Regions from separate parts of the Homo sapiens genome. Here regions 1 and 2 are each linked to region 3. Evidence: fine-mapped expression QTL. A gene starts in region 3. Each other region holds a variant in brackets. All regions are shown on one strand. Distances are from middle to middle.

Evidence for each region.
Region 1: its variant is fine-mapped to the expression of MFHAS1 in whole blood (INTERVAL, PIP above 0.99).
Region 2: its variant is fine-mapped to the expression of MFHAS1 in whole blood (TOPMed, PIP above 0.99).

Annotation. Positions count from the first base shown.
Region 1 is chr8:8,851,439-8,859,112 of GRCh38, reverse strand. The region is part of intron 1 of MFHAS1 (multifunctional ROCO family signaling regulator 1); the gene reads left to right. Among named protein-coding and RNA genes, the nearest start is that of MFHAS1, 38 kb to the left of the region's middle. The variant T/C (reference allele first, on the strand shown) is at 3,728.
Region 2 is chr8:8,865,538-8,873,211 of GRCh38, reverse strand. The region is part of intron 1 of MFHAS1 (multifunctional ROCO family signaling regulator 1); the gene reads left to right. Among named protein-coding and RNA genes, the nearest start is that of MFHAS1, 24 kb to the left of the region's middle. RefSeq lists a silencer at 4,439-4,733. The variant C/A (reference allele first, on the strand shown) is at 3,918.
Region 3 is chr8:8,890,813-8,898,486 of GRCh38, reverse strand. It overlaps MFHAS1 (multifunctional ROCO family signaling regulator 1), which reads left to right and starts at 4,857. Exons shown (of 3, transcript NM_004225.3): 1 at 4,857-7,674. The coding sequence starts at 5,429. It also overlaps the pseudogene RNU6-682P. RefSeq lists silencers at 4,712-4,961, 4,972-5,251, 5,362-5,631 and enhancers at 5,476-6,436, 6,437-7,396, 7,397-7,674.

The DNA.
Region 1 (7,674 bases), 39 kb after region 3:
CCAAAGTTTTGGGATTACAGGCATGAGCCATCACTACCAGCCGTGGTGAGCTTTGTTTAACCAAGCATTTTTCAAACTTATTGACTGAAGAATCTTTATGTGTGTGTGTATGTGTGTGCATATGTAAGAAGTAACATCCGCTGGAGCTGGTATTGTGCAGAAAATATGTTGAGAAATATAAAACAGATATCTGGCTTGTGTTCCTCTATATAGTCTTTTTTGACTGAGAATGCTTTATCCTTGTTGTTACGGATATTTTCACTTTGTTTATTTCTATTTTGGTCTGAATCATGAGTGTAGTTGATCCTTGAACAACATAGATTTGAACTGCTTGGGTCCACCTCGACGCCACCTGTGCATACGGAGGGCTGGCTCATCTCATATGCAGGTCCCGAGGGCCAACTTCAGGACTTTATGCATAGATTTTGGTGTGCTGGGGATGGGGGCCCTAGAACCCAACCCCCCATATATATACCGAGGGAGGACTGTCTATTTTTGTTTTTTACCTGTGAGGCCATCGCCACAATGAAGAGAGTATCCCCCAAAAGGCATATTTTTAATATAGTTGTAATTATAGCATTGCATAATCGTTTTCAGTAACATAGGTCTCATCTGTTGCTCTAGGTCTTAGTAAAATAAATCACTCTTGTTGAACCCTTCCTAGGCTCCAAAACTGGATGGGCCATTTAATATAATTTTAAATATTAAATTTAAATTTTCTTTCATTTATTAGAATTTTCAAAGGGTAATAATGTTATATATTTAGATTTTGATGACATGGAGACATCTGAGACTTGCTTAGTTTTAAAAAAGCAAAATTTATGTCATACAGCTCTTGTAAGGACTGAATAAAATAATGCATATAAAAATGCCTAAGACAATGCTTGGCATGTAGTGGGCACTTACTAAACAATTTCCTTCCTTCCCTTGCTGGCTTCTTAACTACTCCCTGCCTTGTATACCCCCTGTGCTCCGTCCCAATTTCTGTTCAGATACTAGACAGATGGCTGTTGCTTTGGGATAGGTCAAAGGCTGTCAGGCGTGGAGGCAGGCAAATGACCCAGATCAGTGAACACCAGTCATTGTCTCAGAGCATTTTGTTTTGTTCAGCTCAGCTATTTGAATCATCTTGGATTTTCTCATTTGTTTAGAAAAAGGTTTCCCCAAAATTGGTGGTGTTGGGTTCCTGATAGCAAAATGTATCAACAAGTGGGCAGTCAGCATATGGAATTTGCCCAACTCTACAGGGAAACTTGCTTTAGGTATTTTAAAAGTTAACTTGTCAATGTCACTGTAGGACAGTTATATATCTACTGAGTTTACAAACAAAAGATTTTTTTTTGTTTTTTTTTTGAGACGGAGTCTTGCTCTGTTGCCCAGGCTAGAGTGCCTTGGTGCGATCTTGGCTCACTGCAACCTCTGCCTCCCGGGTTCAAGCGATTCTCCTGCCTTAGCCTCCTGAGTAGCTGAGACTACAGGCACCCGCCACCATGCCTGGCTAATTTTTATATATTTTTTGGTAGAGACGGGGTTTCACAATATTGGCCAGGCTGGTCTCGAGCTCCTGACCTTGTGATCCACCTGCCTGGGACTCCCAAAGTGCTGGGATTACAGGCGTTAGACACCGCGCCGGGCCTGAACTCATTTTTAATTAGAATTCTTATTATTTCAGTGGCTGAATGGAGGAAAAAAGAAAGGACCTAAGCCCAGAAAATTCACAGGTTTGTTTCAGGGTAGAAAAATTTGGCATATTTTGGCCTGGAAGATATCTCATTATGGAATCAGAAATCTGAAAGGGATATTAAATTAGGAGCAAACTTGTGCTGTGTTGGTTAACCACTGAAAGTTGCATTGGCAGTTTAGTAACTAAACAATAGGGCCACACGCGGAATTTATTGATGTCTCATGAACTTTCTGTTTAAATCTTTATTGCTTTGAATTGATAGGCTTCTTTTTTCCCTTCCACTTTGCTTAAGGGACTGAATCTGTTTTTGGCATTCTAAGACTCTTTTTAGAATTTGGCAGTGCCTCTCTAGGATGTTTTCTTCTGCACTGCCTCCAAAACAAAATTATGAACAGCCTGGCTCTTTCGGTATCTCTCCTCTTTTTTTTTTTTTTTTTTTTTTTTTTTTCACTTTCCTGATGTGAAAGTGTCAGGTTTTGAGCCAGTTTGAAAGATGAGAACTAGAATATATTTCTCTTTCTGATCTAGAGAATCCTAGTGGCTTCTAGGGCAGTGTATAAACAAAGCCCTGTGGCTGCAAGGTTTCCCGTGTGCAGCAATAAACTGATACATGCCGGTGACAGGAATCTGGCTCATGGGCTTGAAACCATCCATTAACTCATTAATTGACCAGACATCATGGGGGTCTGCTGAGTGCCATGGGGATGCTCTGTGCTGGGAAAGATGCAAAGATGAATAGGCTAGGAATAAAAGACCAATTTCATTTTTTAATGTGTCAGTATTTTTAATATTGAAATGTAGGACCTTGCAAGTAAAATACTATTAAGCTAATTTCCCAATTTAGAGTCTTTGAATTATTGTCTTGGATATTAAATATATTCAGTGTTTCCCACCAGTGGATCCCAAAGCCTCACCTGATATGTTTGGCAATTGTCAGGCCCTCTTTTTTATACTCCAGAGGAATTCCAACAGGAAATATGTACACACCATCCCTTACCTCCCTTGCTTCTTTTCTTTTCTGCGTCCTACTTTGTTTGATCTTGAAATACGGGGAAGTATCTTCTGGGCAAGTGCTGTTTCTGTGCCAGGCTGTGCAGGTCATGCTTGCCCCAGTGCCATGAGAAAGACACTCGAGTGAGCTCGGGACAGATCTCTCCAGCACTGTCCTGGCTTGACCCCACCTGACCAGTGACTCTTGTACCATGCCCAGCTCCTTTGGCTGCTGGAGCAAAAAGATCTAGGGAGTTTGTTTTCCAAATAAGGGCCCCAGATCTTACTTTCAGAGCTGTGCATGTGAGGAGTTCATGGGGAATCCCTCATCTCAGCAGACATGGGGAAGACCGTCTTCTAAACTGTAGTTCTGAAACAGGTAAACATTCAGTCCCCGCTCGCTTTCAAAGCACAAAAGTGAGGAGGCTTATTTGGCATTGAAATAACTGAGCATCTTTTCTCATCTGTGTTTCTGAATCTGTTATGGCCAGTGTTTTATAACCCCCTTCACATTACCTTGTCAGTAACTTGCTTCAGATGAAAATAACGGCAGAAAGCATAATTTTTTGTTTTTTTCTTTTTTGAGACGGCGTCTCACTCTGTTGCCGAAGCTGGAGTGCAGTGGCGTGATCTCGGCTCACTGCAACCTCAGCCTCCCAGGTTCAAGTGCTTCTCCTGTCTCAGCCTCCCAAGTAGCTGGGATTACAGGTGCCTGCCACCATGCCTGGCTAAATTTTGTATTTTTAGTAGAGAGTAGGTTTTGCCATGTTGGCCAGGCTGGTCTTGAACTTCTGACCTCAAGTAATCCACCCGCCTCGGCCTACCAAAGCGCCAGGATTACAGGTGTGAGCCACCGTGCCTGGCTGAAAACACTGTAGCGAGTTCATGAATCAGGATTAAAGAATCTGTGGGATATATAGAATGATAGAATAAATTCTATAACGTTCATTTTCATTGTGCAGGATGGAGACATTAGTGTGCATCTCAGTTAGGATTTAATTGCTCCTTCCCTGTGTTCTTGAAAGCGCTTGGAAAGCGCCTCCAATCCTCCAT[T/C]GTATGATTCTAGTTCAGGTCTGGCTCTTTCACCAGACAATGAGCTCCTGTGGTAAGATGCCATGTCTTAATTCATCTGTTTTCCGCTTGTCCTAATACAATGTTAAGATTGCCAGATAAAATACAGGATGTCGGCTGAGTGTGGTGGCTCACGCCTGTGATCCCAGCACTTTGGGAGGCCGAGGCGGGTGGATCCCCTGAGCCCAGGAGTTCGAGACCAGCCTGGGCGACATGGCGAGACCTCTCTCAACAAGAAATAAAAAATAATTTTGGTATGCTGGGGGTGGGGGCCCTAGAACCAAACCCCCCATATATACTGAGGGAGGACCACGACTGTGGTCCCAGCTTCTTGACAGGCTGAGATGGGAGAATCACTTGAGCCCAGGAGATGGAGGCTGCAGTGAGCTGTGATAGTATCACTGCACTCCAGCGTGGGGTATAGAGTGAGATCCTGTATCAAAAACAAAGAAACAAACAAACAAAACCCCAAAAACCCAAAACCAAAAAAACAGGATAGCCAGTTAAATTTGAATTTCAGATAAACAATAAAGTGTTGCTTATGGGTGGGTCTCATGTATACATCTATTCTTACATCTGAATTTCACGTAAGCAACGAATAATTTTTAGTGTAAATATGTTCCATGTGATGTTCTGATTTAGTCATAATACATATTTTTTTCTTTCTTCCTTTTTTTTTTTTTGAGACAAAGTCCCCCTCTGTCATCCAGGCTGGAGTGCAGTGGTGCAATCTTGGCTCACTGCAACCTCCACCTCCAAGGTTCAAGCAATTCTCATACCTCGGCCTCCTGAGTTGCTGGGACTAGAGGCATGCACCACCTCACCTGGCTAATTTTTTTTTTTTTTTGAGACAGAGTCTCGCTCTGTTGCCCAGGCTGGAGTGCAGTGGTGCGATCTCAGCTCACTGCAAGTACGGCCTCCCGGGTTCACTCCATTATCCTGCCTCAGCCTCCGGAGTAGCTGGGACTGTAGGCGCCCACCACCAAGCCTGGCTGATTTTTTGTATTTTTAGTAGAGACGGGGTTTCACTGTGTTAGCCAGGATGGTCTTGATCTCCTGACCTCTTCTTGACCTCCCAAAGTGCTGGGATTACAGGCGTGAGCCACTGCACCTGGCCTAATTTTTATGTTTTTAGTAGACACGGGGTTTCACCATGTTGGCCAGGCTGGTCTTGAACTCCTGACCTCAAGTCATCCTGCCACCTTGGCCTCCTAGAGTGCTGGGATTACAGCTGTGAGCCACCACACCCAGCGTATATTTTTGTTTTGTAAATTGGGCAACCTTATACAATGCCCATGACTTACAAAGGATTTTTTGCTCCTAAATCAGTGTAATTTAATAATGTGAACACAACTAAGACAAATCAAGGTGTTCATGGAGTTGGTTGGTGTCTTTTATGGAATGCAACATGGGAATTGGAAATAGTAATTATCCACCTTCACCAGTGTGTTAGTGAGTATGGACCATTTAACCTACAACAGTTGGATAACCTTGACAATAGAAATAGGTAGCTAAGCCAGGGGTGGTGGCTCCTAGTACTTTGGGAGGCCGAAGTAGGGGGATCACTTGAGGTCAGGAGTTCGAGACTAGCCTGCCCAACATAGTGAAACCCTGTCTCTACTAAAAACACAAAATTTGCCAGGAGTGGTGGCGCATAGCTGTAATCTCAGCTACTCAGGAGGCTGAGACAGGAGAATCGCTTGAACCCTGGAGGCGGAGTTTGCAGTGAGCTGAGATTGCGCCATTGCACTCCAGCCTGGGCGACAGAACAAGACTCCATCTCAAATATATATACGTAGCTAGGACCTGACCTAATGGTTGTACCCACACTGTTTGCCTTGTACGTGCCAGGCACTAGCAATCTAAGTTGTGTGTGGTTTTTTTTTTTTTTTTTTTTTTTTAAGAATGAGCAGACACCTTGTGCGATTGTCCAGGTTAACTAACAAAAATAGTTGTCTGGGTTTATGGAACTGTAATTACGAGTCAGATCCTGGTTCCCTTCCGCTTTCTCTGCTATTTCTGGTTGCTCCTTTTTATTCCCAAAAGGTAGAAAGGGGCAGGTAGGACAGGAGCTTGCCGCCTGTTGAACTAGAGGGAGTAGCTTCCGAGCAAACTGTGACAAAATGGGGTATTTTAAGCCTCCATTTTTTTTGGGGGGTATGTGAGTGTGTGTGTGAGTCGGTGTATATGTACACAGTGCAAGTAAATAAGCCTGAGTGGGTGGCAAGAGCCTTGTTTGTGTAGTAGGAGAAATGGAGCCTGCAGGGGCATAGTCGGGGTCTTGAGAGCAGACACACGGACTGAGCCAGGCAGTTGCTGCTGAGAACAGAATCAGGACCTCCTGCTTCCTTTGGGTGATATTGGGTTTTTTAGGCCACCTTCCCAGCCACAAAGTAGGACTCTGAAATACATCCGGGTATAAATGTTCTTATGGAAATGCAATCACTTCTGACTTTAAGTATGTAGAAGTGAGGGCTCATACCCTTCTCCCAGAATGTAAATTTGACTCATCGGGGCTAACAACAATGATAGCCTAATATAAGAAACTGTTTACCGGACTCTGTTCTGATGTCAGCCAAGCTAGAGCTTTGCATGGTGGGATGCTTTCTCTTGGCTGTGCCCTATTAGGGAAGGCAAAAATAGAAAGCTTTTTCTCTGGACTTCAGAACGGAATTAATGCATGGTTATTAAAAGCATCAATGGCAAATGGCCATGGAAGTCAGAATCTCAGCCTTAATGAAGGGCGATGGTGTCCACAGAACCAATTATTTTGCAAAGAAATAAAATAATAAAATCCTCCCATTGGTTTTAGAGTGGCTGAAACCAGCAGGCACCAGGTCTAAACCCTCTTGTGGGTGTGTGTGTTTGTGTGTATGTGTGTGTGTGTGTGTGTGTGTTTGAGAGAGGGTCTCGCTTTGTTGCTTACGCTGGAGTGGCGTGATCTCAGTTCACTGCAGCCTCCGCCTCCCAGGTTCAAGCGATTCTCTTGCCTCAGCCTCCCAAGTAGCTGGGATTACAGGTGCATGCCACCACACCCAGCTAATTTTTGTATTTTTAGTAGAGATGAGGTTTCACCATGTTGCACAGGCTGGTCTCGAATTCCTGACCTCAAGTGATCTGCCCGCCTCGGCTTCCCAAATGTGATTACAGGTGTGAGTCACCGCACCTGGACATTGTGGTATGTTTTAAGTACTCACGCTAATGACATTTATACCTTGCTTGGCACTCCTGAAACCTCAGCTCTCTGGAGGACAGAATATCTGCTAAGGGTGCGACTCCCATGGTGCTGGAGAGGGGTCTCCTTCGAATGGAAGCCGGCATTCCACCACCCACTCCCTATGTATCCAAAACTGGGCTTGGCATCGCTGTTCCTGAGGGAGCGCTCTGTCCTTATTAGGGATCCGCCTGGTGACCTCAGATTTACACTTAAGCTTCAACTTTGTTGAGGGAAAACATTTTTTCTCTGTCACCAAGAGAATGGAGAACACTGTGATCGCTTTTCAAGTCTCACCTGCCAGGAAATCTTTATTTTGCGGGGGGCATCACAACTTCCTCTTTTTCCATGTACCTTAGTTTACTATTACTTTAAGTGTTTTGGTTGGATTAACTTCCTGTATTTGTTCTTATTTTAAATACATTCTTTAGTTAAAGTGTTACTCAGTGAATGGAAAGAGAAAAACAAGGCAAGAGGAAGGGGTATAATATGAAAGAATAGAGTTTTGTTTCCAGTTTTGTTTTGCAACAGTAGATAAGAACTGTAAACTTTCTAGTCCCTGGTTTTTTAATAGTATATGGAAACACGATTTTGTTGTACTACATGGTAGGATGAATTTAATTAAGCTGCCAAGCAAACTTGTTGATTTAGATAACAACTCCACACGTAGAGTTTGAAGAGCCTGTTTTGTGGTATCTAGACCTCACTTTTAAGA
Region 2 (7,674 bases), 25 kb after region 3:
ATAGCTGAGGTGACTTTGATTCCGGAGGGCTATTGCTTATGAATTGCATGTGGAAGAACTAAAAATAGAAATGTGAATTTTCCAAAAGAACACTATGATACCAAAAATGGCTCACTGGCTTGCCTAGAGCTGGGCTGTTTTGTGCCCAAGGTACAGTAATAAGAACTGGGATGCAAAGCCCTGTAGGGTGCATCTGTCCCCTTCCCTGACACCCCTCACTCCCAGATGGCTCACGAGTGGCACTGCCCGGTTGTCTCCGTCTCACTCTTGCACGATGTTCTGCTGCCTGTCTGGGATGGAGCAGGTGTTCTTTTGAATGTATTTGTTAAGCCTCTGAAATATATGCATTTCCCCCTCCCCAAGAAAAACACACATGTGCATGCTCTGTGCTTTTCCCTGGTTACTGTATTGTTCCCATCTTTTTTTTTATTTTTATTTTTTCCCTTGGAATAGGGAATATCCACTCATTTTCTATTTAGTCCCTTCAGGAATTTGCCTTAGGGGCTGTTGGGCCAGGCCTCACTGCAGCCAGCCAGAGCTTATCAGCTGTGTGTTAACCTCTCCCAGACACTTCTTGAATGCTGTTCATGCATCCGAGCCTATGCATCTGAGCCTCCTCTGTGTAATGTGGTGCGGCATTAAAAGCTTACCCAAATAGCAGGGATGATTGCATCTTGTTGATTACCAGGGCTGATAACATTTTCTTGCTTAGCTAAAAAGAAAAGCCAGATGACTGTTTCCAGGAAGTGATAAACTGCCATGCATCCGGCCCCAGGTGGTCCGCATGAAGGAAGCTGCAAGGTTGGAATCCTCCTGCCGTCCCCTTTTACAGTTCATAAATCTTCTGATTTATGGGGCCATTTGTGATTGCAGACACATTTATTCATGGGGGGATTTCCATCGAGATCATAACCCACTGTAAAGCAGGAGGAAGAATCAGGAATTAGAACGGTGTACATTCCTCTTTGTTAGAAAAGAATCCCGATTCTTTGGTCATAGACAAATATTTGCTTTTGAAGAATCTGGTGGTGTGTCGCTGGCTTTGTTCATATCCGTGCACAGTCACATGCTCCCTTGCCTCCCATGGACCCAGAAGCTTATGTTACACAGATCGTTTTATAATGCTTGCCATCCGGGCATGTTTATGCAAAGTGTGAATAACTTTTTGCCTTAGCCTCCTCTTCCTTCCTTCTCCCTCCTTTGATTTAGCTCATTTCTGGAATGGGGCAGATTTTCATCTCAGGGAGTTGATACGGTTTCCTAGGTAGGGTGACAGAACAAGTGTCACCTTAGCTGTAGCTAGAGATGAATATTGCCATGCAGCTTACTTGCTTTATATTAAACCAGCATTAGAGAAAGAGGCCTTGCATCTTTTATCAGCAGTATGTTAACCTCTCCCAGGCACTTCTTGAATGCCATTCATACATCTGAGCCCATGCATCTGAGCCTTGGATGTAATTAAATCAGTGGATTAGGAAGTCGGGGGCCTGGACCTCTGGGAAGCCACTTGGCCTCCCTGGGCCTCAATTTCGTCTGTAAATAGGTAAAAATAATTCTAACAGTTCCCAAGCATTTACACCTGCTATCAGAGTCTCCTTAGATGTTGTGAGGGGGAAATGAATGAATAGATGTCAAGTCCCCAAGTAGTTTTTTCTTTGTTTGCGTGTTTGTGATCACTCTGTTGCCCAGGCTGGAGTGCAGTGGAGTGATCTTGGCTCACTGCAACCTCCACCTCCCTGGTTCAAATGATTCTTGTGCCTCATTGTCATGAGTAGCAGGGATTACAGGCATGTGCCACCATGCCCAGCTAATTTTTGTATTTTTAGTAGAAACTGGGTTTCACCAAGTTGGCGAGGGTGGTCTCAAACTCCCGACCTCAAGTGATCCAGCCCCCTCGGCCTCCCAGAGTGCTGGGATTACAGGTGTGAGCCATCACGCCCAGCTGCAAGTAGTTTTTACCATATAATAAGGGCTCAGTAAACATTAGCTCTGATTACCATCATCCTGGTTTACAGATGAGGAGTGGAGACAGAGGAGGGCTAAGTCATATGGCCAGGGGCACACAGCATGTAGCAGAGCCCAGGTTGTCCTCAGGAACCTATGGTCTTTGCTGTCACCCTGTGCTGCTTCTCAGGAAGGCAATAGCTTGTCACCCATTAAAAATGGGTAGTTATTTGAATGAAAAGCAGAATAACCCCCGGAGGCAGAGGTTGCAATGAGCTGAGATTGCACCATTGCACTCCAGCCTGGGCAACAGAGTGACGCTCCTGTCACCAAAAAAAGAAAAAAAGTAAGGACTCCTTGTGTGAAATGCACATGGTTGCTTTTAACATTGCAGTACTGGACTATAAACATTTGCTGGGGATTGGCAGTGACCAGCCATGGGGCAGAGCATGGGGCATGGGAGGGGAGCAAGGCCTTGACCCCGGGAAGCTGCAGTCCAGGGAAGCAGTGTGGACAGTAAGCAGAGATTTGCAGGGCTGTGTAATAAATTCCAGGAGAAAAAGATCTCCAGGGGCTCGGAGAGGCCTGCGGGATGGAATCTGTCTTGATCCACGTGTGTGTGTGTGGGGTGGTTAGATGGATGGGAGGTCTCCAGGGGAGGTGAGTCGTAGGGACTTTCTGTAAAACCAGGGCCCCTGACGTGTGATGGGCTGTACAAATTACTGGCAGCCCAACTATTCATTTATCAATGCACGTCTGTAAATATTTTTGTTTTCTTTTTAAACCTTTTTTGTTTTCCTGGGAGACAGAGTCTTGCTCTGTCATTTAGGCTGGAGTGAGGTGGCGCGATTTCAGCTTACCACAGCCTCAACTTCCTGGGCTCAAGCTATCCTTCCACTGCAGCCTCCCGAGTTAGCTGAGACTGTAGGTGCGTGCCACCATGTCTGGCTAATTTTTTTTTTTTTTTTTTTTTTTTTGTAGAGACAGGGTCTCACTATGTTGCCTAGGCTGGTCTTGAACTCCTGTGCTTAAGTGATCTGTGCATCTTGTCCTCCCGAAGTGCTGGGATTACAGGTTGAACCACTGTACATATCCCGTGTAAATAACTTTTAGCCTATCTATTCACTAGCTAACACTTTTTCACCAGAAGGAACTTCTGGCATCTGGGTGTTAAGCTAAATTAAAGCCTGATGGTTTTTTTCAGAGGGTGAGAGGAAAATACTGAAGGGTCAAATGGGGAAATGTCAAATTTCCATTTTGTCAGCACACTCAGGGCAGCAGTGTGGAAGATGGATTTCAATGGAGTAAGAATGGAGTCAGAGGGACCACTTAGAGGTAATTCAGACAATAATAAACAATAGAGGCCCCCAGGTAGGTCCTTGGGGATGAAGGCAATTGAGTCTTGGATGTTAATGAGGCAGAGTCCTGGGCCTCTCTCCTCCTAGCTCTGAGCTCTTGAACCTTCCCAGGCTCCGGTTTCCTCATCCATTAGACAGAAAGCATGACTGATTTAAGTGTATGTTTCAAGAAAAATTTTAACCACAGCGGGAAGAAGACTGCAGCATGTTTTAAAAAACAGAAAGCGGAAGTGATTTGATAAGATTAATTTCAACAGGACTGATGTGGAACGGCTGCTAGCTTAATTGGTTTATTAGGGTCGTGTAGCCACCCTCTTATGATGGATACCAGGTGAATTCCAGGAGATATATAGTCTTAGGTTTGTAAGCAGTGCCATTTGCAGAGGAATAAGGTTCTTTATTTCTTAAATTTGGAAGGGTCTCATAGAAATAAGAGACTTTATAAATATCTAGTAACCTGTCACCGCTTTAAAATACCGCAAAGATAAATGATGCTGATTGTCGCGTGCTTGGCATGATGAATTATGTATGTAGCGTGCCCCGGAGTTCTTTATGGTTGTGCATAACGAATCAGCTTTTGTTCTAGCTTATTTTCAGTGGTAGTGCTTGTAAAAG[C/A]AGAGGTCAAAGCAGATGCACTGAAGAGATGTGGTTGGTGCAGGATGATCGGGTTTTGCTATCCTGTTCTGTGCATTGCTTTTGTTTGTGCTTTGATTTTTCATTATCAACTTTGGGGAGGGTGGGAGAGCAGCCTTGTGGCATTAACAGCTGCATGATGGCACAGAGCAGGCAGCGACTCTTCTTGGTTCATGCACCTCAAAAGCGGCCCTCTTTTTGCCTTCCTCCTCCTCCTCTCTGCACCTGCTTTGCATAGCTGTTAACTACTTTTCCACCTAATAATAAAGGAAATTGAAATAAATGGTTAGGAACATGCCCATAATCTTTTTTCTCACTGACTTTCTCTAAACTCTAGACGAAACTAGAGAGGATTAAGAAATGTAAAACACAGCAGAGAATGTCTTTTTTTTCCTCTCCCTTTTTCTCTTCCCCTAGCAAAGATTTCTTTAGAATCTGAGTGAGATATCAGAGGTGCTGTTTGCATATGAAGTAGCGATGACTATGGGTGGAAGCCAGTTGTAAGGTTGCATAGTCATTTATAACTTCTTTCTATGTTAAGGTTACTACCGACTTTATGAGAGGAGCCTCCCAGACTCAGGTGTCATGCCTGACTCATGAGTAATTCATTAGAGAGGGCCCAAGCCATGTATTTCATTGTGGGTTTGTGAGCGGCCTCATCTTCCATAAGATGCTCATTTGTTGGGCTGATCCAAGGCAAAGATCCGAGTAGTTGGGAGTAGCTCCAAATTGGGATGAGCCCAGGCCTACTGTGCATATCTGTTTGGAAGGGCACATCTGTCTACCAAGGGCTGGTTCCAGTGTATTAGCCGAGTGGCACTAGGTAATCAGTTTACAGTCAGTTTAAAAAAGTTGAGGCTATCCTTCTCGGTGATTAATTATGGCTTTTAGTTCATACTAGATTAAAAAAAATCTTTGCATCTTTGCAAGAATAATCATTAACTTAGTTTGTCTATATTATTAGCCGAAAGATACAACACAGTGCTCATGCAGTGTAGAGAAATGAGATAACATCTAGAGTTTACATGTAAGTAGCTATTTGTCAGGATATTTATTCATTGATTCTAGATTCATAAAGCAGGAGTTTCCAGAGGCCTTGCAGCAAGGAATAAGCACCTGGGAGATTCAACTGAATCCCCCTCAGAGCCTGTGCGTTGGGAACTTGGTCTAGAAAATGGATCAGGTTTGTGCGCTATACCACTTATTATAATAAATGATAAAAGTCAGTCTGGACAGAGTGCCACAGAAGTTCAGGCGAGAAAGAGGATTCTTCCAACTGAGTGGGGCCATGGAAAAACTCGAGTTCCATTTATTAGCGGTAGGAAACACATGTTGAGAATGAAGAATGGAGTTAAACAATTGGTCTTTCCCTCAGATCCCAGGGTTTTTAACCTGTTACTAAAAAAGTATAGCAATTTATGGCCAGGCACGGTGGCTCACGCCTGTAATCCCAGCACTTTGGGAGGCCGAGGTGGGCCCATCACGAGGTCAGGAGATCGAGACAATCCTGCCTAACACGGTGAAACCCCGTCTCTAGTAAAAATACAAAAAATTAGCCGGGTGTGGTGGCGGGTGCCTGTAGTCCCAGCTACTTGGGAGGCTGAGGCAGGAGAATGGCATGAACCCGGGAGGCGGAGCTTTTGGTGAGCCGAGATTGCGCCACTGCACTCCAGCCTAGGAGACAGCGAGACTCCACCTCAAAAAAAAAAAAAAGTATAGCAATTTATAATGTTTGAATTATCATTAGCTTATTGGCGTGTAATAATACTTTGCATACTTTTAAAATTCTGGGGTTGGATTAATAATAAAAGAGTAGAAACATTGTTTTTATAAAAAAAATTTTCTGTGCGACACCTATAGGCAAGTACCTATGGGCCTCCTTTTAATTTTGGACTGTTTTAGGAATGTTTTATTTTATTTTTGGTATCTTAGGAACCATAAGAAGCATACTTTCAAAAATGTGAGGGTATATTTTTAACTTTTGTTATAAAAATGTAACAAAAAGTTTATATGGTGAAGAATTTAGTGGGTTTGCATATGCTGATGACCATTGTGACTTTCATAAAACCCCACAGCCTGTGTTTAATTCCATTTCCTACTAGTACAGACTTGAAGAGCTCAGTCCATCTCCTTTATTATCTTGTTTCCTTTAATCTATATTAATGCACCTTAGCAGTATCAGAAATTTTGTTAATATATTATGTGTAGCTGAACTGTAAGCTAAAAATAGATCATACCAACCCATCTCTCTTTCTCTTTCTTTTTTTTCCCACTGTCACCTTCACATTTATTCTTAGTGACTTGCAAATGATGGGATTACACCTTAAAAATTGTCTTGTATCAGATATGTATTTCCCCATTCTCTAAAGAAGGCTAATTATGCAAGTACACGGTTCTTTCCTGATTCATGAATTCATATCACGATTTTATTTTCAGATTCCTCAAGGTAATTGCTTGTTAGACTGGTTCACAGGATGAGAGATATCCAAGTAGTCATATGAACCGTTTCCGTCCCATTCATGCCATTCTGTCTTCTGCAGAAAATAAGTGAGTCAATCACTGTTTATGAGAATGTGTAAGAGACTGGGGAGAGAGAAGGGACTCAGTGGCCATTTTGTATCACGGATCCTTTTTACTAGGGATAAGAGTGATCCTTACTGGCTGACTGCAGTGGCTCATGCCTGTAATCCCAAAACTTTGAGAGGTTGAGGTGGGAGGATCGCTTGAGCCCAGGAGTTGAAGACCAGCCTGGGCAACATGGCAAAACCCCATTTCTACAAAAAATAAAAAATTAGCTGGGCGTGGTGGTGCATGCCTGTAGTTGCAGCCGTTGGGGAGGCTGAGGTGGGAGGATTGTTTGAGCCAGGGCGGCAGAGGCTACGGTGAGCTGAGATTACGCCACCGTACTCCAGCCTAGAGGACAGTAAGACCCTGTCTCAAAAAAGAAAAAAAAAAAAACAAAAAAGAAGTGATCCTTGCTAAGTTGCCATAGATCCCTGTTCTAGGTTCCCATTCAGCGTCAGAGTTTTATCGTCTGATAAAACAGGGATCAGTTAGAGAGCTTTTCGCAGGCAAAATGACACTGATTTTACTGAACCAATGGTAAAGAGAAGTGCTCCTAGGTTCCCAGGCCCTGTTCTTCTGTATTCTTCCTGCTTAGAAAAAGAGAATAATAAAAGCACTTCAGCTAGGAGTAGAGCTTTCTAAAAATTGGCCAGCCAAATCCCCAGGGAAACCAGGATTTCAGCTTCTCTGTCATCACCTCTGTTTGAGGTTGGCATGCTTTGGCACTTTTTCCGTGGCTGCACTGTCAGGAGAGTAGGCCAAGCCGCCTGAACAAGGAGAGGTGTGGAGGACAGTCATTCTGTAGCTGCAGTAATCCCTGCCCTAGTTTTTCTGCCTTCCTGAGAGAAATAATAGACACCACTTGTTTTACATCAACCAGGCTTCTGACCTTTTTGGACTATGAAAATTAAATTCTTCTAAGACACTAAGTGTTAAATTTGGGACCCAAAAATAGTTGGACTAAGTGGCTGCCTGGTTTAATAGTGGCAACTCAGTTCAGATAATAATTACTAGAAATTTCAAAGAAGTTATAGGAGCCTCACCTTGAGTAGACTAGGATTTGACAGTTGAGTGATATACAATTGTACTTAACAGCCATTTTCTAAAATGAAGTTTTCTGGACAGTAATTCATGTCAAGTGTCATCTGTTGCTTTTCTATGTGATTCCACTTCA
Region 3 (7,674 bases):
TGGTCTTGAACTCCTGACCTCAAGTGATCCGCCCACCTCTACCTCCCAAAGTGTTGGGATTACAGTCGTGAGCCATCACACATTGCCAATCCAGACTGTTCTTGACAAAAGACGCTTATCTGGAGCATCTAGGATTCTCCCTTCTAAACAGCCATGTTTCAAGGCCTCACTCAAGACACAACCTCTTTCCATGTACTCTCCACTCTCCTGAATGACTCTGCTCTTGCAGACAGGGTCTAGACTCTGGAACAAAGCCAATGTGTATGGAATGCTCTTGCCATCATAAGGCAGCAGCGAAAGAGAAAACAATCTAAGAGTCAGAAAACAGGATATATTAAAAGGCTTAAGCTGAAAAGGTTTTGGAAAGTTTATAGATTAGATTCATGACATTGGATAGACCTCTAAGGAAAGAAAACTTTATATAATAGAGTTCCTCTTCTCCAAACAATGTTGTTGTTGTTTTTGCTTTTAGAAAAACCCTACCATTTGCAGGGCCACGCTTATCCTTTGCAGGGCCTGGGGAAAGGGTACACGGGAAGGCCCACATGCCACATGCCTAAATATCTAAATGTGTTACATCACCCTAACAGATGTGGCACATTCACACTCCTTGCCCTAGCCTGGGCTACATCCAGCACAGAGAGGAGCTTCGTCGGCACACAGCTGAGGTCCAGCTCCTGCACAACCCCCAGGTCTAGGGATGCCCACCTCAATAACTTCTTTCGAATGACTATGAAAGACTGCCCCACGCTCCCCATCCAGGCTTGAGGCTATTTGCATTGGGAATTCAGGGTCCTCCATACCATGTGTGTTCTAGAAGGTGGAGGGGGCGTGCCCCCTTGGCCCATCAGAAACTTAACCACACGGGGTACAGCATGGTGAGAGGAGGGCCAGGTTAGGTGCCCACGGCAGGAGTCCTTGCCTGGGTTGATACTTGAGAGGATCACTTGAGCACAGGAGTTCGAGATCAGCCCGGGCAACATAAGCAGACCCTGTCTCAATGAAAAAACAGAAAAGATGATACTTTCATGAATCCTCTTTCTTTCTTTCTTTTTTCTTTCTGAGATGGAATCTTGCTCTGTTGCCCAGGCTGGAGTGCAGTGGCATGATCTCGGCTCACTGTGACCTCTGCCTCCCGGGTCCACGCGATTCTCCTGCCTCAGCCTCCTGAGTAGCTGAGACTACAGGCACCCACCACCATGCCCAGCTAATTTTTGTATTTTTAGTAGAGATGAGGTTTCACCACGTTGGCCAGGCTGGTCTCGAACTCCTGACCTTGTGATCTGCCCGCCTCGGCCTCCCAAACTGCTGGGATTACAGGTGTGAGCCACTGCACCCAGCCCAGGAATCATTTCTATAGTTCTTTACGAAGCAGTTTCTTTGAAAGTGGAAAGCACAAAGAAAAAAAAATTTTAAAGCTATATGGAACACAATATCTTTTCATAGAGTTTTCTTTTATCATTGAGTTATCTTTTATCATTTGACTTTCTAGTTTTTAGCATACTGACTTTCTTTTGTTGTGTTGTGTTGTATTTTGAGACAGAGTCTCACTCTGTTTCCCAGGCTGGAGTACAGTGGTGCAGTCTTGGCTCACTGCCGCCTCCACTTCCCAGCCTCAAGTGATCTTCCCGCGTCACTCCTGAGTAGCTGGGACTACAGGTGTGCGCCACCACACCCTACTAATTTTTGTATTTTTTGTAGAGATGATGTCTTGCCTTGTTGCACAGGCTGGTCTCGAACTCCTGAGCTCAAATGATCTGCTCGCCTCAGCCTCTGGAAGTGCTGGGATTACAGGCATATACCCCTGTGCCCATTCACATACTGACTTTCAAAGAACTCATAGACAAGGATTCTTACAAGGCTTCCTACTATATTGACTGCATCAGCTGAGGGGCTCACAAAGAATTGCCACCCCCAGCACACTTATTCACTCCAGGCTTTGGGGCTTTAGTGGGGCTTGAAGCCCCTAGCGCAGGGTCCTAGCCAGTACTTTTTATTAGATAAAGCAAATTATAGATGATCTCCTGACAAATGAAGAGTGCAGTTTTCCAAGGACATTTAAAATAGAAGTATAAGCTGGTCAGGGTGGCTTATGCCTATAATCCCAGCTACTCAGGAGGCTCAGGCAAAAAGACTGCTTGAGCCCAGGAGTTCGAGTCCAGCATGGGCAACAAAGCAAGACCCCCATCTCCAGAAAAAAAAAAAAAAAAGAAAGAAAGAAAAGAAAGGAAAATATAATTTTCTTCAGAGAAAAAGTCTCACTCTGTCACCCAGGCTGGAGTGCAGTGGTGTGATCTTGGCTGACTGCAACCTCCGCCTTCTGGTTTCGAGCAACTCTCGTGCCTCAGCCTCCTGAGTAGCTGGGGACTAAAGGTGCGCACCACTATGCCTGGCTAATTTTTGTATTTTTAGTAGAGATGGGGTTTTGACATGTTGGCCAGGCTGGTCTTGAGCTCCTAACCTCAACTGATCCACCACCTCGGCCTCCCAAAGTGCTGAGATTACAGGCATGAGATGCCATGTCCGGCCATTTTTCTTTTTTAAAATAATTTTTTAAATGAAAATATTATTAAATAAATGAACACCATGAATTTGCATGTCATCTTTGTGCAGGGCCATGCTAATCCTCTCTGTATTTTTCCAATTTTAGTATATGTGCTGCTGAAGCAAGCACAATTTTCATTTTTTTCAATTGATTTCAGCTTCTGCAGGAGGAAGTATAATTTTCTGATGGCTTCTAAAGAGGAACAGTTAGCAGTTATTGAGATATAATCATGTAAGGTGGTGTAGGATGGTGATGCCTACTCCAGTCTCCTTACCCAGGCTGAGTTCATATTTTTGTTAGAAGAAGCTGCAGGATGGAGAATTTGGGGTCTGGCTCAAGAACAGTGTGAGTACAGGTGATGATCACAGGGGAATACATTCCACACGGGGAGTTAGCAGTCCTGCCTCTACTCTACTTTGATGGCTGATTGAGAAGTCACTTACTTTGAGCCCATTTCCTCCTCTGTGGGGGAAAAAAAGGGTCAGCCTAGATAACTCAGAATATTTGTTGTAAAATTGACTGTCTCTGGGAGGGAGTGTGGGTGGGGCTACCCTGAGCCATCTGAACTCTCGGAAGTCCTTCAGAGTGAACACAGATCAGCTCTTGCTGTTCACTTACTCACATTTCATCTGTGGTGTCAGAGCCTCAGGGACCCAGCAGAACTGGGGAACATCCTCCAGTTACAGCATGTACTACCTGCAGCCTGATAACCATCACTGGGGTGGATTTCCAGCCTCAGATGTTCAGGTGCTCTTTTTGGAAACACACACTTCTCACGTTACTGCACCAAATATGGGTCCCCAAATGACAGCCATAGCGCATGTCGGGGAGAGCTGCAGTGGGTCAAGTGATGCCTTTAACCAACTGAACGCAGTTTTCGGTCCCTGAAAACTATTTGCTTCCTTATCAATCAACCTGAAGGGAATGATGGAGGTGACACTGGGAGTCTTGGTAGGTTTCCAGACTTTCATAAGTTCGGGAGAAATTATTGACTTAGCATAGATGTGAGCTCAAAGAAACATTTCCTAACAGCAATAAAAATAAGCATTAGAGTTGAACAATGGACTGTGACTGTTTCCCAAAATAGCTGTTTTCTTGAGTCCGCAGAACAACAGGTACTGTATTAATGGGGATACAGTATTTGTTTCACAGCGTTGTTGTGAAGATAAACGGGATACCCCAGATAAACAGCTTGTGTCCCCCCCATCTTAACAACCCTCCTTTAGGCTGGCGGGCCACCTGCTCAAAAGCCTTCCCCAGGGGGGTTAAAACCGTCTTTTAGTAGTTCTGGTACGGGTGGGCTGGGGGAGATCCTCTAAAGCCAGTGCGACCTTGACCCCAGCCAATGTCCAGGCTCTTGACACATCCAGAGAATGAGTTCAAGGACAACTCAGAAAATAGTGACAATATGCAGATTTATTGCAAAGGGAAAAGTACACACCCAGGAAAAGGGATTGTGGAGAGGGTCACTCACAACGGGGCTTGGGGCTGCTACCTTTATGGGTTTCTTTAACCAAGGGGTGAAATATTCATGAAAATTCCTGGAAAAGTGTGGAGATTTTTCGGGACTGTGGTGCCACCCATTTTTACTTCAAATATGGGTGTCCCCGGAATTGTCATGGCACTGGTGTGACTTAGGATGTTAAAGAGCGTATAATGGAGGCCTAGGAGAAACCTAGGTCAAATCCAGGACCACGTCGGGTCCAGCCGGTCTTAGCCAGCTTGGTACACACCCTGGTTTTCAGGGTCTTATCAGCCCATAGCCTCCAGTCAAGTGAAACTGCTGCCTGGTATTTTTTATTCTCCTCTGACCAGCCTGCATTACTCCTGTCCCATGTTCAACACGAAATAGGGCCTCAGGAAATATTTACCAAATGAATGAATGGTTGCCTGTTCTAATTTTGTTTAACCACACTCTTGTCCTAAGCTTCTATGATGATACCCAGGGCCCCCGAGTTGTGCCAGTTCCACTACGGCGTGGATGCAAGGCGAGCGGCAGGGGAGCAGGTAAAGGATGAGTAAGGGAAGCCGGCGGATCCGACGCATTAGAGAACAAGAAAAAGAAATCCTTAGAGACTGGGGGCCAACAAAGAGCCAGGCGCGGGCGAACCCACCAGGGGGGCCCCGGAGCCCCACATCCGCCGCTGGGACGACCTCCCCGCCCAGCATGGTCCGGGGCGCGGACCCGGCCCCGCGCCAGGCGCCCCCGGCCCCGCACCCGGCGCCCTCCGCAGCTCCCGCCCCCGGGGCGGTGCCGGGAAAACGCGGCGCCTCCGCCGGTCACGTGGGGGCCGCTCCGGCGGGCGGCGCTGCCGCTTCCCAATCGCGCCCTCCCAGCGCCGGGGACGCGGCGCCCGCGCTCCCGCCCGAGCCCGGGGAAACGGAGACAAGGAGGCGCCGCCGCCCCCTCCCCGCGGCTGCGCCCCAGCCCTGCGCCCGCAGCATGCCCGCCGCCGGGCCGAGCGCCGCCCTCCCCCAGGAGCTCGAGGAGGCGACGCCGCTGCCGGCCGCGGGACCGCGGCTGCGAGGGTAGCGGGGCCGGAGCCGGGCCCCCCGAGGCGCCGCGCGGCGGGCGGAGAGGGAGGAGGAGCAGGCATCCTCCGCGGCGCGCGGGCGGCGGCCCTGCTGCCCGGCGCGCCCATGGCCCGGCCGCAGGGAGAATGCAAGCTGCTCTCCACGCGCTCGGCGTCCCCCGGAGCCGCTCGCGTCGCCGCCGCCCCCTAGCCGCCAGCGCTCGGCCGCTGGCTGCGCTAGGACCCGCGGCCGCCGGCCGCCGAGCGCGGGAGGGCAGGCAGGGGCAGGAGCCGGAGGGCCCGGGGCGCGGCGCGGCATGTAGCTGCGGGCTCCCGCGTCCGCGTGAGGCTGTCGGCCCGGGGCCCCGCCATGGCTGGGATGGACAGTGGCAACCTGAAGACCGCGAGGCTGTGGCGGGACGCCGCCCTGCGTGCCAGGAAGCTGCGGAGCAACCTGCGCCAGCTCACGCTTACCGCCGCCGGGGCCTGCCCCGGGGCCGGGGCCGACGCGCTCGAGTCCCCCGCCTCCCCCCAGCTCGTGCTGCCGGCCAACCTCGGGGACATTGAGGCACTGAACCTGGGGAACAACGGCCTGGAGGAGGTACCCGAGGGGCTGGGGTCGGCGCTGGGCAGCCTGCGCGTCCTGGTCCTGCGCAGGAACCGCTTCGCCCGGCTGCCCCCGGCGGTGGCCGAGCTCGGCCACCACCTCACCGAGCTGGACGTGAGCCACAACCGGCTGACCGCCCTGGGCGCGGAGGTGGTGAGTGCTCTGAGGGAGCTGCGGAAGCTCAACCTCAGCCACAACCAGCTGCCCGCCCTGCCCGCCCAGCTGGGCGCTCTCGCTCACCTGGAGGAGCTGGATGTCAGCTTTAACCGGCTGGCGCACCTGCCTGACTCCCTCTCCTGCCTCTCCCGCCTGCGCACCCTGGACGTGGATCACAACCAGCTCACTGCCTTCCCCCGGCAGCTGCTGCAGCTGGTGGCCCTGGAGGAGCTGGACGTGTCCAGCAACCGGCTGCGGGGCCTGCCTGAGGATATCAGTGCCCTGCGTGCCCTCAAGATCCTCTGGCTGAGTGGGGCCGAGCTTGGCACGCTGCCCGCCGGCTTCTGCGAGCTGGCCAGTTTGGAGAGCCTCATGCTAGACAACAACGGGCTGCAGGCTCTGCCCGCCCAGTTCAGCTGCCTGCAGCGGCTCAAAATGCTCAACCTCTCCTCCAACCTCTTCGAGGAGTTCCCTGCCGCGCTGCTGCCCCTGGCTGGTCTGGAGGAGCTCTACCTTAGTCGCAACCAGCTCACCTCGGTGCCATCCCTTATCTCGGGCCTGGGCCGGCTTCTCACCTTGTGGCTGGATAATAACCGCATCCGCTACCTGCCGGACTCCATCGTGGAGCTGACCGGCCTGGAGGAGCTCGTGCTGCAGGGGAACCAGATCGCGGTGCTGCCCGACCACTTTGGCCAGCTCTCCCGGGTGGGTTTGTGGAAGATCAAAGACAACCCACTGATCCAGCCCCCCTACGAGGTCTGCATGAAGGGGATCCCCTACATCGCAGCCTACCAGAAGGAACTGGCTCATTCCCAGCCGGCGGTGCAGCCCCGGCTCAAGCTGCTCCTGATGGGGCATAAGGCTGCAGGAAAGACTTTGCTGCGCCACTGCCTCACCGAGGAGAGAGTGGAGGGATGCCCAGGAGGAGGGGACAAGGAGAAGTGCTACCCACCGTCACCTCCCCCTGTGAGCAAGGGCATCGAGGTGACCAGCTGGACGGCCGATGCCTCCCGGGGCCTGCGGTTCATCGTGTATGACTTAGCTGGGGATGAAAGTTATGAGGTGATCCAGCCCTTCTTCCTGTCCCCAGGGGCCCTATACGTGCTGGTGGTCAACTTGGCCACCTATGAGCCTCGCCACTTTCCTACCACCGTGGGCTCCTTCTTGCATCGGGTCGGGGCGAGAGTGCCCCACGCGGTGGTGTGCATCGTGGGCACCCACGCAGACCTGTGCGGAGAGCGTGAGCTGGAGGAGAAATGTCTGGACATTCACCGCCAGATCGCCCTGCAGGAGAAGCACGACGCGGAGGGACTGAGCCGCTTGGCCAAGGTGGTGGACGAGGCACTGGCCCGGGACTTCGAGCTGCGCTCTGCCAGCCCCCACGCAGCCTACTATGGCGTTTCGGACAAGAACCTTCGACGGCGCAAGGCCCATTTTCAATACCTGCTCAACCACCGGCTGCAGATCCTCTCCCCCGTGTTGCCTGTTAGCTGCAGGGACCCGCGCCACTTACGACGCCTTCGGGACAAGTTGCTGTCAGTTGCTGAGCACCGAGAGATCTTCCCCAACTTACACAGAGTACTGCCTCGATCCTGGCAGGTGCTGGAGGAACTGCATTTCCAGCCACCTCAGGCCCAGCGACTGTGGCTAAGCTGGTGGGACTCGGCGCGCTTGGGCCTGCAGGCGGGTCTGACCGAGGACCGACTGCAGAGTGCCCTCTCCTACCTGCATGAGAGCGGCAAGCTACTCTACTTTGAGGACAGTCCGGCTCTCAAGGAGCACGTCTTCCACAACCTCACCCGCCTCATCGACATCCTCAATGTCTTCTTCCAGAGGGATCCCTCTTTGCTGCT